4 linked regions of the Homo sapiens genome follow. The protein of the gene in region 4 purifies or fractionates together with the protein of the main gene of each other region. This does not show direct contact. Each region holds a gene or a part of one and is shown on either strand. Other genes may lie near its edges.

Evidence for each region.
Region 1: the proteins of SHH (region 4) and GSX2 purify together in Homo sapiens (affinity purification with western blotting; one study listed by BioGRID). This does not show direct contact.
Region 2: the proteins of SHH (region 4) and EDEM1 purify together in Homo sapiens (affinity purification with western blotting, with the first as the bait; one study listed by BioGRID). This does not show direct contact.
Region 3: the proteins of SHH (region 4) and EDEM3 purify together in Homo sapiens (affinity purification with western blotting, with the first as the bait; one study listed by BioGRID). This does not show direct contact.

The regions. Positions count from the first base shown.
Region 1 is NC_000004.12:54,098,880-54,102,996, forward strand, and holds GSX2 (GS homeobox 2), read left to right. Parts: upstream 1-1,283; 5' UTR 1,284-1,465; coding exon 1,466-2,039; intron 2,040-2,702; coding exon 2,703-3,043; 3' UTR 3,044-3,619; downstream 3,620-4,117. UniProt on the Homo sapiens protein: Transcription factor that binds 5'-CNAATTAG-3' DNA sequence and regulates the expression of numerous genes including genes important for brain development.
Region 2 is NC_000003.12:5,190,645-5,194,207, reverse strand, and holds part of EDEM1 (ER degradation-enhancing alpha-mannosidase-like protein 1), read right to left. Parts: exon of another isoform or gene 1,905-3,563; coding exon of another isoform or gene 1,876-1,904; exon of another isoform or gene 1,851-1,875; intron 1,270-1,850; exon of another isoform or gene 1-1,269. UniProt on the Homo sapiens protein: Extracts misfolded glycoproteins, but not glycoproteins undergoing productive folding, from the calnexin cycle.
Region 3 is NC_000001.11:184,752,023-184,756,201, forward strand, and holds the start of EDEM3 (ER degradation-enhancing alpha-mannosidase-like protein 3 isoform 2 precursor), read right to left. Parts: upstream 2,837-4,179; 5' UTR 2,625-2,836; coding exon 2,467-2,624; intron 1-2,466. UniProt on the Homo sapiens protein: Involved in endoplasmic reticulum-associated degradation (ERAD). Accelerates the glycoprotein ERAD by proteasomes, by catalyzing mannose trimming from Man8GlcNAc2 to Man7GlcNAc2 in the N-glycans.
Region 4 is NC_000007.14:155,802,448-155,806,010, reverse strand, and holds part of SHH (sonic hedgehog protein isoform 1 preproprotein), read left to right. Parts: intron 1-2,284; coding exon 2,285-3,111; 3' UTR 3,112-3,563.

The sequences.
Region 1 (4,117 bases), on a different chromosome or scaffold from region 4:
AGTTAGCTGCTCTGGAAAAAGGATCAGACTTCTAACTATTGCCCAACCACATGGCCCCAGCCCGCTTTTCTGCAGGGGGAAATGAAGAGAGAAAATGGCCACCTCTGCTGCCTTGCCTTCTCCGAAGATAAATAGTCCCAATAGTTTGGCAGCCACCCTCTCTCGGGCAGTAAGGGGTGTGCAAGACTTCCATGGACCAGAGAGAGTTCCCTTACAAAGCCACTTCTGCCAATCAGAGGCAAGATTCCCTGGATGGCTGAATCCTCTTCATCCTTTTTAGGTTCTTAAGATGCAGAGGAAAGAGTGCTTCCTGGTTAGCCTTGCTAAGCTGCCCATGATTGGTAAAAATGAGGGACAGGAAATCCTCAGACCCAGAGCGAAGGTCTATCTAATCCCTGCTGCGTCTTTAGGAGGGCTTGGTGTTTGAGGTCCTCCCTCCAAAATCTTCAGGATGGAGTTTGTAGGATTGCCCTGGAATGCCATGGTGTTACTACTTGGAGAAAGAAAAGGGTGACTCTTCAACATCTCTCTCTCTCTGCGGAAGTGGGAGGTGCCGATCAGAAAGGGAAACAAGGAAGGGTCGTTGGTCTGAGTGGCCCCAGGAGGGCCCCAAGTACAAAGACACTTCAGACCTTGTCGAACATCAGCATGAAAAGCTTGACGGTTTCTTAGCTGGGAGGCCTCACAGTTCTGCGCCGGACAGTCCTGAACTAACCACCTGAATGACCTCTGCCAAGTCCAAAAGCTGTGGACAGGGGTAGGTGTAACCGTGGCCAGAGCTGCGCTCAGGGACTGGACGACTGCCAGTCCGTCGCCCGCACAATCCTGCTCCAAACCGCAGGCCTCACACTTCACCGCGCCGCAGCCACCCCTACCACAGAGGAGCTGGAAACACTGAGCATTCCTATTAAATAAGCCTCCAAGTCCCCACCTGGTACGCTTTGCGGTGGGGCGTGGGGAAGAGTTGGGCTGCGGCCAGGGTAGCGAGAGGGGGTGGGATGGAGGATGCAGCGCTGTGATTTCTCAGTAAAGCGTGGAGAAAGAGGGGGAGGAGGCCGGCCTCCCCGGGAAATTAACAAAACCTACACTTTGCAAAGTCTCCCCCATCCCCCTCCCCCGAGTTCTTCCCCGCCGCGCGCCCGCCCCTCCTCGCGGCTTCTGTTGTGACTCGGGCAGCCTATCCCGAGGGTGCGGAGCTGCCGAGGAGCCTGAGCCGAGCGGTACTCCGCAGCATCACGTGCCAGGGTGGGGGGCTATAAAATACCCGAGCCGGGGCGCCGGGCGGGGGACGTGAGGACCAGCCCTCTCCGGGGACCCCTTTGTTCCCAGCCCAGACGCCAACACCTCTGCGTCCCCAAGGGCTTGACTGCCCGTGTCTGCGCGGCTCCCAGGGCAGAGCTTAGAACACTAGAGGAGAGGGGTCGCCGCGAACTGCCGGGGCTTCCAGCCACCCACCCCTCTCGACATGTCGCGCTCCTTCTATGTCGACTCGCTCATCATCAAGGACACCTCACGGCCTGCGCCCTCGCTGCCTGAACCGCACCCCGGGCCGGATTTCTTCATCCCGCTTGGCATGCCGCCCCCATTGGTGATGTCCGTGTCCGGCCCCGGCTGCCCGTCCCGCAAGAGCGGCGCGTTCTGCGTGTGCCCTCTCTGCGTCACTTCGCACCTGCACTCCTCTCGGGGGTCTGTGGGCGCCGGCAGCGGGGGCGCAGGGGCCGGGGTTACCGGGGCCGGAGGCAGTGGGGTGGCAGGGGCCGCAGGGGCACTGCCTCTGCTTAAGGGCCAGTTCTCTTCGGCTCCTGGGGACGCGCAGTTTTGCCCGCGGGTGAACCATGCGCATCATCACCACCACCCGCCGCAGCACCACCATCACCATCATCAGCCCCAGCAGCCTGGCTCGGCCGCGGCGGCGGCAGCAGCAGCAGCGGCGGCGGCGGCCGCGGCGGCCTTGGGGCACCCGCAGCACCACGCACCTGTCTGCACCGCCACCACCTACAACGTGGCGGACCCGCGGAGATTCCACTGCCTCACCATGGGTAGGGCGGGGTCTTGGGGCACCTGCGCTCCGCGCCTTTCGCGCTCCTGGAGCAAACTTTCCACCTCCAGTGGAGGAAGTGGGAGCCCGGGGACAGGGTGAAGAGAGAGGACGGGCTTTTAGTGTAACCGTAGAGTCAGCCACAGAAGTTCCACGAAAGTGGAAGTTAGTTTGCCAGCTTCTCCACTCAGCCTGGTGCGTTTTACTCCTAGTAGTAGGTGCTCGAGTATTGCCTTATTAATACTGGGGCCTTAGGGACCTCGAACGTCACGGCGGATAAACCAGAGGTTAACTGCTTGGGATTTGGGGTGGGTGTGTTTGAACCTGTGTGGCATCCCCGCGTCGGGGCGGCTAAAGCGTCTTGACGTTTTTGGCTAAGCCTGCGCGCTTCTCCGCTTGGCTCAAAGGGAGGCGATCAGATAGTGCAAGCCCCCATCCCTCTTTAATCCTGTGACTTCGCATCCTGCGCATCGAAGACCTTTATTTGCTTTGCACGTCTCTTTTCTTCCCCGCTAAGCAACCACGTGCCTTGAAATGGGAAAGGGATACAGATGTTCGGCTGGGCTTCCCCGGGTGGGTCCCTGAAATGCGTCCTGGTTAGCACATGGGGTGGGAGCACCTTGCCCGAGCCTTACCTCTCTACCCTCTCTTCGCCGGTCCGCAGGAGGCTCTGACGCCAGCCAGGTACCCAATGGCAAGAGGATGAGGACGGCGTTCACTAGCACGCAACTCCTGGAGCTGGAGAGAGAATTCTCTTCCAACATGTACCTGTCTCGACTCCGGAGGATTGAAATCGCCACTTACCTGAACCTGTCGGAGAAGCAGGTGAAAATCTGGTTTCAGAACCGCCGAGTGAAGCACAAGAAGGAGGGGAAGGGCACGCAGAGGAACAGTCACGCGGGCTGCAAGTGCGTCGGGAGCCAGGTGCACTACGCGCGCTCCGAGGATGAGGACTCCCTGTCGCCGGCCTCAGCCAACGATGACAAGGAGATTTCCCCCTTATGAGGGAGGGCCTCCTCCCTCACATCCCCCGCTCCTGGCAGACCAGGCAACGCCAAGGCGTGGGGCACCCAGGGGCCAGAATCCTTGCTCATTGCAGTGGTCCCATCTGGAGAAGAAACGAACCTGGAAGTTCTGGAATGGACAAGCCGGGACCTGACCCTTCGCGTCTCCTTCTTGACCTGTTTATCTAGGACTCCAACTTGAAGTTACAGATTTTTTTAAAAAATGTAAATAACCTATAATTCAACTCATTCTTGTCGTATAACAGAGGAAAAACAGGGTTGGTTTAAGTTTAACACTGTATGGGGTTTTTGAAAGCACATGTCAGTTCCCCATCCCTACTCTCTTTCAGAACTCGATAAGAACACAGGATTTATTGATTATTTTCTGTTGTCGTTTTCAAACAAAAACACCCAAGTTGAAAATAATTTAGAAAATTAGACCTTGTAGGTCTTGCTTTCTGAAATTTCGCCTGGGGAGAATTTAAAATCTAAGTCGCTGGAAGTCCCTTTGTATGTGAATAGGTTTATATAAAATTTATATTTATATTTATTTAAATAAATGAAACAAAAACCAGAATTTTAAATCTGTGGTGTTTGCTCTCCCTATCTTCTCCTGCCCCCTCCTCCAATGTCTAGAGAAAGGCATATGCAGGAAAAAGCTGTCTGAGGAATTCGAGGAAAATGTTGAGTAAGAACTTGGTAATGTGGGTCTCTTGACTGAGGGAGTTTGTGGCTCAATGGGTTTTCTATGTAACAGAACTTTCGCCAAGGAGACACCTTTAGTCATGATGGCATCTACCAGGCAGTGCCTCTCCATCCTTAAAATAGGCAACCTCCTCACAGTTGATAGGACAAATCACTCCATTTGGAATGACACTGACCATTAACGACAGGTAAACCTTTATTTAGCAAGGAAGGGTAAAAATCCCCCATCTAGTTTTTGTTTTCTTCTTTCTACTTCCTCATTTCTCTCAGTACGAAAACTTGAATTATGTGAAGGAATTTGTAGAGTCAGAATAGTTTTAGGAAGAGCAACAATCCATCAAACAGGTCAGAAGCAAACAGTGGAAACTTA
Region 2 (3,563 bases), on a different chromosome or scaffold from region 4:
ATTTCCAGCAAGATGCATTGATATCTGCAGTCTTCCATCATATCCCAAAGCACTTCATCTGCTCCTCGGATCACCCTAATGGGTCCTTATCTCACCTTCCAGTCAGAGAAGCTTCTGGTGCACAGCACCTCTCGTGTTGTGATGGCTTGCTGTGGTCTCTGAAAGGCCTGTGCCTCAGCTGGGGAAAATGGGGCTTATGTGAAAGAGGCATAACAGCTCCAATGTCTCATTTTATTTGAACCCTCCAGTTGCCTTGTTTTATGCTGTTACACCATCTAATCTAAAGCAAAGAATTTATAGTAAAATTTTAGGCTGGGTGCGGTGGCTCACGCCTGTAATCCCAGCACTTTGGGAGGCCGAGGTGGGTGGATCATCCAAGGTCAGGAGTTCAAGACCAGCCTGGCCAACATGGCAAGACCCTGTCTCTACTAAAAATACAAAAATTAGCTGGGCGTGGTGGCAGGCGCCTGTAATCCCAGCTACTAGGGAGGCTGAGGCAGAAGAATTACTTGAACTCAGGAGGCGGAGGTTGCGGTGAGCCGAGATCATGCCATTGCACTCCAGCCTGGGCAACAAGAGCGAAACTCTGTCTCAAAAAAAAAAAAAATTTTAGATACTGTTTTTTTGAAACGAGATATATATGGGGGCTATAGTCTAGGAACTAGGGCTAGCTCATTTCCTATAAGCTGGGAAGTCAGAAAACTGCTTGGCTGGAAAATTGTACCTGTTTTTTCTATTTGTTGATTTTCTGGAAATAAACTTATACAATAGCAAAAGGTCCCCTCAAAGCAAGAGCTATGGATTCAAATATGCCTCTCAAGCGCAAGTGACAGCCAAAAAAGGTACAAAAAGTGCAAGGGTTGCAGGAGGGGCTCAAAGGAGACAGGGAGATCCTTACGCCCAATTCTGCCAACTCAAGAATGTTCTGCTCTGTGTAAATATTTCACTCTGTTGCTCTGCCGCTTAGAAACAGAGTGGGCTTCAACAGCCCACCTCATCAGAAAACAGCTCCCTCATCATGTAGCATCCAAGCTAGATGGTAATCAGGAGAACCACATGTAACTCCCCTCTCCTGAGTCACACCCAGATCTGCGGCATGTGTCATTCTATCCACCTGCACAGGCCCATGGAAGGAAGGTACTCACTGTGAGCACTGAACTCCTTTCTATGTTTTATTGTGCTTTGCCTTGTAATCTATAACTAAAATAGACCCAGTTTTAAAATATTTTTTACAATGCCCAGTCACTAAAAATTAATGAGCTGCCACAGTAAAAAAAAAAAAAAAAATTACTTGCAGTAACTGTGGGGTTTCTTCTCTCCACTCTAGTCAGACAAATCCTCTCTAAGATCTGGGGTATTTACTCATTAGAACACTTTTAATTCTTTCTTACCAAATAATTGCTACATCCTCTTTCAAAAGGTGCCAAAATAAGGGGGAAGTGGGAGTGAGGATGAAGGAAGAAAAAAAAACACCATAAAACTCTACTGGCCTAACAGCATGAAATTATTATGACTCCATTTATGCCAGCCCACTATGCAGCTCAGACTCTGGATTTGTTCTTTGTAGATATTCTTGTCAATCTCCAGCCTAACCTGATACCTTTAAGTTCATCCAGCAAGAACTCAATACCTTTCCCTGTAACCAGCTGGCTGAACCGCACAACTAAACGCTCCACTTACTTCACCAGGTACAAATGTTCATGGCATTCACCCCACTGTAAATTTTTAAAGTTCACCTCAAAACAGAAAAGATGGAGAAAACCATGGCCTTTGATAGAAAATTTTTGATTATGTAGCTAACAAAATCAAACATATGTGTTTTTAAATTTAAATTCCCATGTATACTTAACCTGTAACAGCTGTTCAGAAATCTACCTGGTGTGGTGTAGGCACAGAGATAACATAAGAAACAGTCCCTGCGTTCAAGGGATTGATAATCTGGAGAGACAAGACAAAGGGAAATGCAGGTGAATACACAACAGTACTCAATCCTCAAATAAGGTTAAAATGTAGAATCGCAGCTCAAAGGAAAGGAATCAAAAGAAGAACTGAGCAAATAAAGGAAAATCATCTTCAAACAGTTAGATGGTGTCACGGAAACAAGAGGAGCCTGACTCTGAAAGAGGGCAGGACTTTCCAAAGAAAGAGGAATGCAGAGGAGGCCATCTTGAGCTAGTAGTACCTAAGCATTTGAGGGGCCAATATTTGTTTGGCTTAATTTGAGATTTGTTTTGTTGTTTTAATAGCAATACAGTTGAGAAGAAATTGAGAATGGTCACATGCCCAAAAGCCAGAACTACAGTTAACCATTCACAGGATTACAAAAATATAATATCCACATTTACTCAAAGAAACTTTAAATTTGGATCCTCCAACCCAAATTAAGGATGTGAGAACTGACTTTGCATAGTTATCTTAGACAGATCTGCTCTTTTTAGAGTGTTCAGGTTTTATTCACTTCATGTTAACTCCTTACCTGATACCTCCCCAAGAACAAGTCACATGTACTTGAGGCAAGATAAGTTTGGAGCATATATGACTACAGAGAAACGGTAAGAGTGTTTAGCACCGAAATTTTCTATGTGTACTTTTTATATAATACTCTAATGGCAAATTCACTCTTGTTAAATGAGTCATTAGAATACATTTGATTTTTTAAAATCTGAAAGATTTTTGGCTGGGCTTGGTGGCTCACACCTATAATCTCAGCACTTTGGGAGGCCAAGGCGGGAAGACTGCTTGAGGCCAGGGGTTTGAGACCATCCTGGGCAACAAAGTAAGACCCCACTTCTACAGAAAAATTAAAAAAAAAAAAAATTAGCCGAGCATGGTGGGGCACACCTCTAGTCCCAGCTATTCGGGAGGCTGAGGCAGGAGGACTGCTTGAGCCCAGGAGTTCAAGGCTGCAGTGAGCAATGATTATGCCACTGCACTCCAGCCTGGGTGACAGAACAATACCCTGTCAATTAAACAAACAAACAAAAAATATGAAAAATTTTTATTACAGATTATTTAGTTTGGGGATGTGAAGTACCCTCCTGTTTCAAAGCCAGCATGACAATACTCTGGTTTTAAACTTTCCTCAAGGCCTAGTATTCGATAGCATAACAGGAGGACTACAGTCAATAATAATTTAACTGTACATTTTAAAATAACTAAAAGTATAATTGGATTGTTTGTAACACAAAAGAAAAATGCTTGAGGGGTTGGATACCCAATTTTCCATGATGTGATTATTACAAATTGCATGCCTGTGCCAAAATATCTCATGTACCCTATAAATATATACACCTACTGTGTATCCTCAAAAATTAAAAATAAATTTTTTTAAAAAATATTTAAAAAAAAGCAAAGCCTGAGAGGAGTTAAAGGAAGGAGAGTACAAAAAATTAAGTTTTCCACTGTTTGTAAGTGGCAAGTGTGAGGCGTCCATGCAAGGCTTCTTTGGCCTCCTCAAAGACAACAAAGGTTTACCAACCAACGGGCCTACCCAGCTCAGGGCACAACCCTTCCCTAATGCCATCCCCACCTCCTCAATACTTCTAAAACCCTCTTTCCAATAA
Region 3 (4,179 bases), on a different chromosome or scaffold from region 4:
GATTACAGGCATGAGCCACCATGCCAGGCCAAGTCGGCTTTTTCTAAAGTTACGTCTCCTGCCCACGTGCTATAGAAACTGGATTGTTTTCTACTTCATTTTTTAATGAAAACATAACATTAACAAAATACCCTGTTGCAAAATTTTAAAAACAAAACCAAAAAGCTTATTCCATGAAGGATAAGACTACATATAACCAGCTAAGTAATTCCACAAAGTGTAAGTTATTGAGCAATTGCTTACTATTCATGACAATTCCAGTCTTTATCAACTATTTGGTTTGTTGGTGGGGAGGGAAAGGGGTGGGGCATTTTCTGCTTTTTATCATGAATCATTATTTGGGCTTTAAAAAATGCACAGGTAAACCTAATGAATCAAAGTTCAGTTTTCTGAAAATTCCCAGAGAAAGCAGTCATATAATTGTGTATTTGTCGTTTATAGCTCTAGATTCTTACCCTACCCTTACTCAAGGGTAGAGCAATCTAACAAGCCTAAATAATTGTAATTTCACTTTCATAAATGATCTCAAAATTTGAGCTGAAATTTCAAGCCAATTTGGTTGAACTTTTCCAGTTAAAAACTAATTTTGGTCAAAAATGATTTATCCAATGACTCTTTTACAAATAAGTTTTTAATAAAAAATGAAGAAAGGGTAGTGATAGTCAAATAAGATTCTTGTGGTTCTTAACAGACTTGATACTTCTCTTCCAAGTCTAATGAACGTGCAACATACTGGAGAGAGCCTGGCTCTGGGATCAGACAGGCTTGGGTTTGAATGCTGGCTCTACCAATTACTAGCTTTGTGGCTGAACAAGTCAACCTTGGGTCTCAACTTCCTCATTTGCAAATGTGGATCATATTCATTGGGAAATAGGAAGGAGTACAGAGATAACATATGTAAAGTATTCACAGAGTGAGATATTTGGTAAAACTTATCAATGATACATTAAATTCATATGAGAGAAAATGTAAGATATTTATTAGAGTTTACCGGTAATTTTATTTTGATGGTTGATACTTCAGCTTTTTTCCATCAAGTGACCTTTATTGCTATTTAGAAACGAATACAAGACTCTTTGCAATGATTTAAAGTACATAAAGTAAGACCTGATGGTTCCACCACCCCTCCAGCCTAACCCCATGAGATAATCTTCGTTCCACTTTTTTTCTGAGCTCAGATTTTTTTTTTCTTTTTTAAAAAAAACATGGGATGATACTATACATATTATTCTACAACTTGCATTTTTTTTTGTTTTGGAAATATATTCTGGATAGGCTTCCAGTGACGTACTTCCTTCTTCTTAATGTCTCAATATTATTCCATAATATGAACGTACCCTATTGAACCATTTCCTCCAAGGAAGAGCTGTTCTTTCAAAATGCACTTTTTTTTTTTTTTTTCGAGACAGAGTTTCGCTCTTGTTGCCCAGGCTGGATCTATCTCTGCATTAAGAGTGCTTTTATTTTCTTAGGGTAGATTCTCAGAAATAGAACTGATGAATCAAAGTGTGCACAATTTAAATTTTAGTAGATACTACCAATAAGTTACAGCAATTTACACTCTCACTAAGCCTTTTTTTTCTATTCCTTAACTAACCAGAACCGTATCCTTGTGTTTTGTATTATATTTACTAATCTGATGGGCAAAAACCAGCTAGCTCCTCGTTTTAATCTGCATCTCCTACGTTTATGGAGGTTGAGTAACTTTTCATGTTTATTTACCACTTCCATTTCCTCTTCTGGCTTAACCGTTCATGCCTTTCTCCCATTTCCTACTGGTTCTTCGCTTTTTTCTTATTCATGTGTAGGACCTCGTGTATGTATTACTCTGAATTAAATGGTGTAAATAGAATTGATAATTTTAACACACTTCCAAGACGGATAAAAACTACTGAATAGGTATACTTGAGACTTTTGAATAATTTCCCCCCAAACATTCTATTATGAAAATACAGTGCAAGAAAACACTGCAAGGAAATAGTAAAATGTGTAAAGTTCAAGTTCCAATGAACGCCCCCTTTTCCGTAACAGGTGTAAACATCATTTCCTTAACTACTGTGAGATCAGCAACATTTTCCCAGTTGGAAGCTCACTTGCGCGAGAAAGCTAACCATGCTTCGGTCGACAGGCAGCCAACCGCAGAACTCCAGCGCGCAGCGATGCGGGCTGTAGCCCCCTTCTTGGGCCACTGACATGGCAGCCGCGTTGACACACCGCGCCTGGCTTCAAGGAGCCTGCACATGTCACCGGCGGCCAGGGCGACACCCCGTCAGCTCCCCCGAGGTCAGGTCGCGGGCGGCGGTTCCCACCTCCCCGGACCCTGTCCACCCCTCTAGGGTTCTCGCGCGGGAAGAGCCGTTCCAATCGCGACAGGAGAGGCCACTACGCGACCGGGTCGCAATGACAGGCACCCCTCCTGTTGTCAGCCTCACCGAGAAACCCACCCCAGGCTGCCAGCACCCTTACCCAAGCTTCTGTTTCTCCTCCCTACTCATGGGCTCGGCCCCCGCCGTCCACACGGAGGTGGCCGACACCAGGCAGAACGCGGCCGTCGCCGCCACTAGTCTCCATCGCGCTCGCTGGGGAACCGGGGACCCACAGCCCCGGCCGCCGGCTTCGCTCATGGCCCCGCGGTTCCGCGCACGCGCAGCTGCTACGCCCGGCCGGTGAGACACATTGCTGGACGCTGGTGGCCAGGGGGCTGCTAGCCGTGCCGAGACGGGGCGGGATGCGGAGTAACACGGACGGCCGCCGGCGCCAAACTGTTTCCCGAAGCCACCAAGCCGGTCCCCAGCGCCAGCGCTGCCACCGCCCTCCGCCCTCAGTATCCCGGAGCGCCTCCCCCAGCTTTCCGGTGTCGTAGTCTAGGAAACCGCCTCCCCAACGTTACTTCCGGGTAGGGCCGAAGCCGTAGAGCCTCAGGACCAATGGAGACCTCATGGGAGAGGGGCTGTCTCCGGCGACTGGAGAGGGCATTGGCCAGGAGAAGTGAGACGTGGACAAAAGGCGGGACTGGGAAGGGATCTCTCGCTTCGACCCGCCTCCGACCCGCGGAGTTGCCCCCTGAGGACTACCAGTCCCAGTGTGCACTGCTTCTTCCCCGGCTCTCCCGCGAGCCGACTCGGAGCCGTGTCTCTCGCTTCTACCCGGGGTAGGCGCGCTGCACCCTGGGACTTGCGGTCCTCCGAGGTCGCCAGTGGTTGCTGGGATCCCACCTCCCCCTTTCCTCGGCGCCCTACAGTCAACCCTGTCTCGGTGGGCTGCGGAGTCCCGGGAAACCCGTCAGCTGTTTATCTCTCTTCCTCAGAAAGTTGTTTCCCAGAGAGCTGGCTGAATGAGGCGCACTGTCCCCATGTCAGTGCTGCTGCGTTAGGGAATAGTGTTGGAGTAGTCGTCTACCCTCAGGGAAATTCCAAAACACAGTAACAGCAAAATGAATTGAGCCTTTGAAGGCATTGCGCTAAGGTTTTTACTCGCAATCATCTCATGCACTCTTCTCAACTCTGATAGAGTAAGTACCACCATCCCCCTTTTGCAGACGAGAAAACAGAGGCTTAGAAAAGTTGGTTAACAAGAGCTCGTCACACTGCTGTATTAGAATCCATCCAGCCTCTGATTCGGAAGCCCTTGCATTTAACCACCGCGCAGTACTACAAGGATGAAGGAGCACGTGGGTCCTCGTACATGATTAATAATAGTTACCTCAAAAGCTCAATGTAAGGAGAGCTGTGTGGGCTGCAAAGAAGGTTTAATGAAGGAGATTGGAACTTGCAATGAATTTTGATGACCGAGTCCCAGGTTAACTATTGGTAAAATGACACATCGGTTCCTCTTGAAAAACCACATTGTTTTTCTAGTGTGGTCATTCAATAGGTGCGGAGTTTAGGAGCTTCGATGTGATCTCTGTGACCACAGTAAATTACTTACGTGTCCTTTAAGCAGTATTCGGCGGTCTTTCTGGAAACGTTTCTTCCTTGACTTTTATCACCTTACCTCTTACCTCTTAACCTCTTACCTCTTCTCTGGCTGACCCGTTTTCCTTCATTCTCTCGCTACTTTATATTAAAATACAGGTGTTCCCTTAAGGTTTTCTTTTTGTCCTTTTTCTCTCTGTACTCTAATTATTCCTTGGTGATTTCTTCTCATAAGGATTCAGCCAACATATCTCTGTGGTTGATT
Region 4 (3,563 bases):
CTGGGGGAGGGGCGCTAGGCCCTTCCAGGCGAGGGAAGACAGCCCTGCGCGGTTAGCCAGGTCTGGGCGAGCTCCTTCCTCTCGTTTAGGGCTTAAGAACCAACCGCCCCCACCCGCTATCCCAAGCGCAGGGGTGTCTATCCTGCCCCGGAGCCCGCGTCCTGGCTCCTCCCCGCCGGGCGCCCGTGGATCCTAAGCTGCCTTTGGGGAGAGGCCTGGTGGGCGGCAGTAAACCCAGGGGCAACCACCTCCAGCATCTGGAGGCGGCGCGCCCGGAGCCTGCGTTCCTACTGGGAGCCGGGCCGGGACGCCCTGGGCGGCGGGCAGGCCCCGAAACGCCGGCCCGAGTCGGCGCGAGGCTGTCTTCTCTGGGCCTGCAACGCCACACGCTGTTGCCGGCGAGGAACAGCCGTGGAGGAGGCGCCATCGCGCGCACGCAAACCTCCGGCCCGAGGCTGTGTGCACAGCGCTCTTCTCCGCCCGCATAAATTGGCACGTTTAGCAAAGCCGTTCACGGTGAATTTCGGGGAAACTCTGCCTTCCTCAACCCCCTTCCAGGCTTCCCTACTTGTCTCCTAAATTCCATGTTAATGGCACTATGTTAGTAGGAAAACACTGTTAAGGTGTCAAGGCACACTTGTAGGTAAAGGCTAGAGTGGCTTCTCGTCCCCACAGAAAGCAAAGGCGTGGAGCGGGGGCGGCAGGGGCGGGTGTGCGGCCCGGAGAGCTCCCGGCTGCAGGCAGGCAGGAGGCGGCGCCCCCACCTCGCGGGCTCGGCGGCGGCCCCTGGGCCCAGGGCGCCCCCTGCGCAAAACCTCCTCCCCGGCTCCCTGCCCGCGGGGTCCCCCTAGCGGGGGTCTCCGGAGGCCTCCTCCCAAGTGAGCAGCGCTAATCCATCCCCCGGATCGCGCCGGGAGAGCGGAGCCGCGGCGCGGGAGCCGCTCATTGGCATTCTGAGCACACGGGCGGGGGCGCGGGGCGCAGCGTGTCAAGCCGGGCCGTGCGACTCGACGACTCGGGCTCGCCAGCGCCCGGGGTCGCATTCCGGGGGGCTACGGAGGGCCTCCAACGGCCAGCCCCGCACTTCATGCCAGAGAAACCGATGAGAAGATTAAAAGCCCCCTGTAATTCCAGCAGGAAGATTCTTTCTGGCAATCTCTATTTGCAAAAAGCATGATCCCGGAGATTGGAATGCAAAGAAGACGGCCCTCCCCGCCCTCCTCCCCGGCCCCCTGCGCTCCGCCCCAACTTCAATTATTGTCCTGGGGACAGTGAGCCTCAGAGAGCGACAGAGGGCTCGAGAAAGCGGGTAGTCAAGGGGCCTTGAGACCCGGCGCTTCCAGCGCTCCGAACAGGCCCCGCCATTTAAAATTCAAATACACATCTTGAGTGCTTGGAAGAGAGGCCTGGCTGTGCAAATAGTGCTTGTGAATTGCACACGGGGTGGGGGGGGGTTGCACCTGAGCAAATAGGGAGGGGGAGGCCCGCGAGCTGGGGAGAGAGTGAGCTGAGAACAGGGAGGGGAGAAAATGGAAGTGTCCCCTTCCAAGAGTGTCTCCTGTTTATCCCAGAAATCACAATGACAATGCTGGGCCCTTTATTGGATTTTAATTAGAAAATCCACACAAGCCTCGGATTTTCACACCTCGGCCAATCTCTGGAATGTTTGTCCAGTTGCTACAACTACTGCAGCTATTTTTCACTCCCCGCCCCCGCCCCTCCGCAGGCCCACGCCGAGGCGCGGCAGGGTGCTGCGGGCAGGCGGGCAGGCGGGCAGGCGGGCCAGGGGTTTCCGCCGCGCAGCCCGGGTGCTGAGTGCGCGAGCAGGCGCCGCGCCCCGCGCCGGGGCGGGAGGGAAGGAGGGTGCGCCCGGCGCCCGCGGGAGCTCAAGGAGGCTTCCTGAGGAATCCAAGTGCAGAGCAAACACCCTCTGGATGGATTCGCGGCGAGGCCGGGTGTGTGCGGAGCTGGGGGTGGGGTTGGAGGAAGGCGGAAGGAAAGAGTGTCACCGGCCTCTGCAGGAAACGCCAGCCAACCTCTGTGACCGCCAGCCCAGACTTAGAGAGTCGTTAAGGAATGTGTCGGAATCCTGTCCCTGGGGCAGTGGGGTTGGGGGAGGGAGGTGTGTGCGGGACCCGCCTGGAATCAATCGCCCCGCCCCGCGCCTTGCGCACCCCTGGCCTAGGAGCGCGGGCACCAAGCGTGCGCCCTCCTCCCCGAGACGCGCCTCCCTCTCGGAACTCAATGCCCTGTCCTCTCTTCTTTCCCTTCTCCTCACCCGCAGAGAACTCGGTGGCGGCCAAATCGGGAGGCTGCTTCCCGGGCTCGGCCACGGTGCACCTGGAGCAGGGCGGCACCAAGCTGGTGAAGGACCTGAGCCCCGGGGACCGCGTGCTGGCGGCGGACGACCAGGGCCGGCTGCTCTACAGCGACTTCCTCACTTTCCTGGACCGCGACGACGGCGCCAAGAAGGTCTTCTACGTGATCGAGACGCGGGAGCCGCGCGAGCGCCTGCTGCTCACCGCCGCGCACCTGCTCTTTGTGGCGCCGCACAACGACTCGGCCACCGGGGAGCCCGAGGCGTCCTCGGGCTCGGGGCCGCCTTCCGGGGGCGCACTGGGGCCTCGGGCGCTGTTCGCCAGCCGCGTGCGCCCGGGCCAGCGCGTGTACGTGGTGGCCGAGCGTGACGGGGACCGCCGGCTCCTGCCCGCCGCTGTGCACAGCGTGACCCTAAGCGAGGAGGCCGCGGGCGCCTACGCGCCGCTCACGGCCCAGGGCACCATTCTCATCAACCGGGTGCTGGCCTCGTGCTACGCGGTCATCGAGGAGCACAGCTGGGCGCACCGGGCCTTCGCGCCCTTCCGCCTGGCGCACGCGCTCCTGGCTGCACTGGCGCCCGCGCGCACGGACCGCGGCGGGGACAGCGGCGGCGGGGACCGCGGGGGCGGCGGCGGCAGAGTAGCCCTAACCGCTCCAGGTGCTGCCGACGCTCCGGGTGCGGGGGCCACCGCGGGCATCCACTGGTACTCGCAGCTGCTCTACCAAATAGGCACCTGGCTCCTGGACAGCGAGGCCCTGCACCCGCTGGGCATGGCGGTCAAGTCCAGCTGAAGCCGGGGGGCCGGGGGAGGGGCGCGGGAGGGGGCGGGGCGGGGCAGCAACAGCAACGCAAAGCAAAAAGACACTCGGAAAAGGCGCACGAACCAGACTGAGTTATAATAAGAATAAGAATAATAAAGTAGGACAGTCCAAAGTAGACTCTAAGGAAACAAGGACCCCGGGAAGTTTTGTTGTTGTGCTTAGTTGATATATATTTTTTGAATTTTTTTGGTTATTGTTTTATTTTGGTTATTTTTTCCTCCTCTCCTGGCTATTTATTTGTTTGGTATGAATAGATGTTTTAAATAATATGAACCGGACCTTCAAGAGCCTTAAATAGTTTGTTTCTTGGATAATTTATTATGATCATGTGAACTGTACTCACGGGGGAAAGATTATTTTGTGAGGCCAAGCAACCTGCTCAGAGTCTATTTTTCTACATGTCCCTCGTCCCGGCTGTCAGA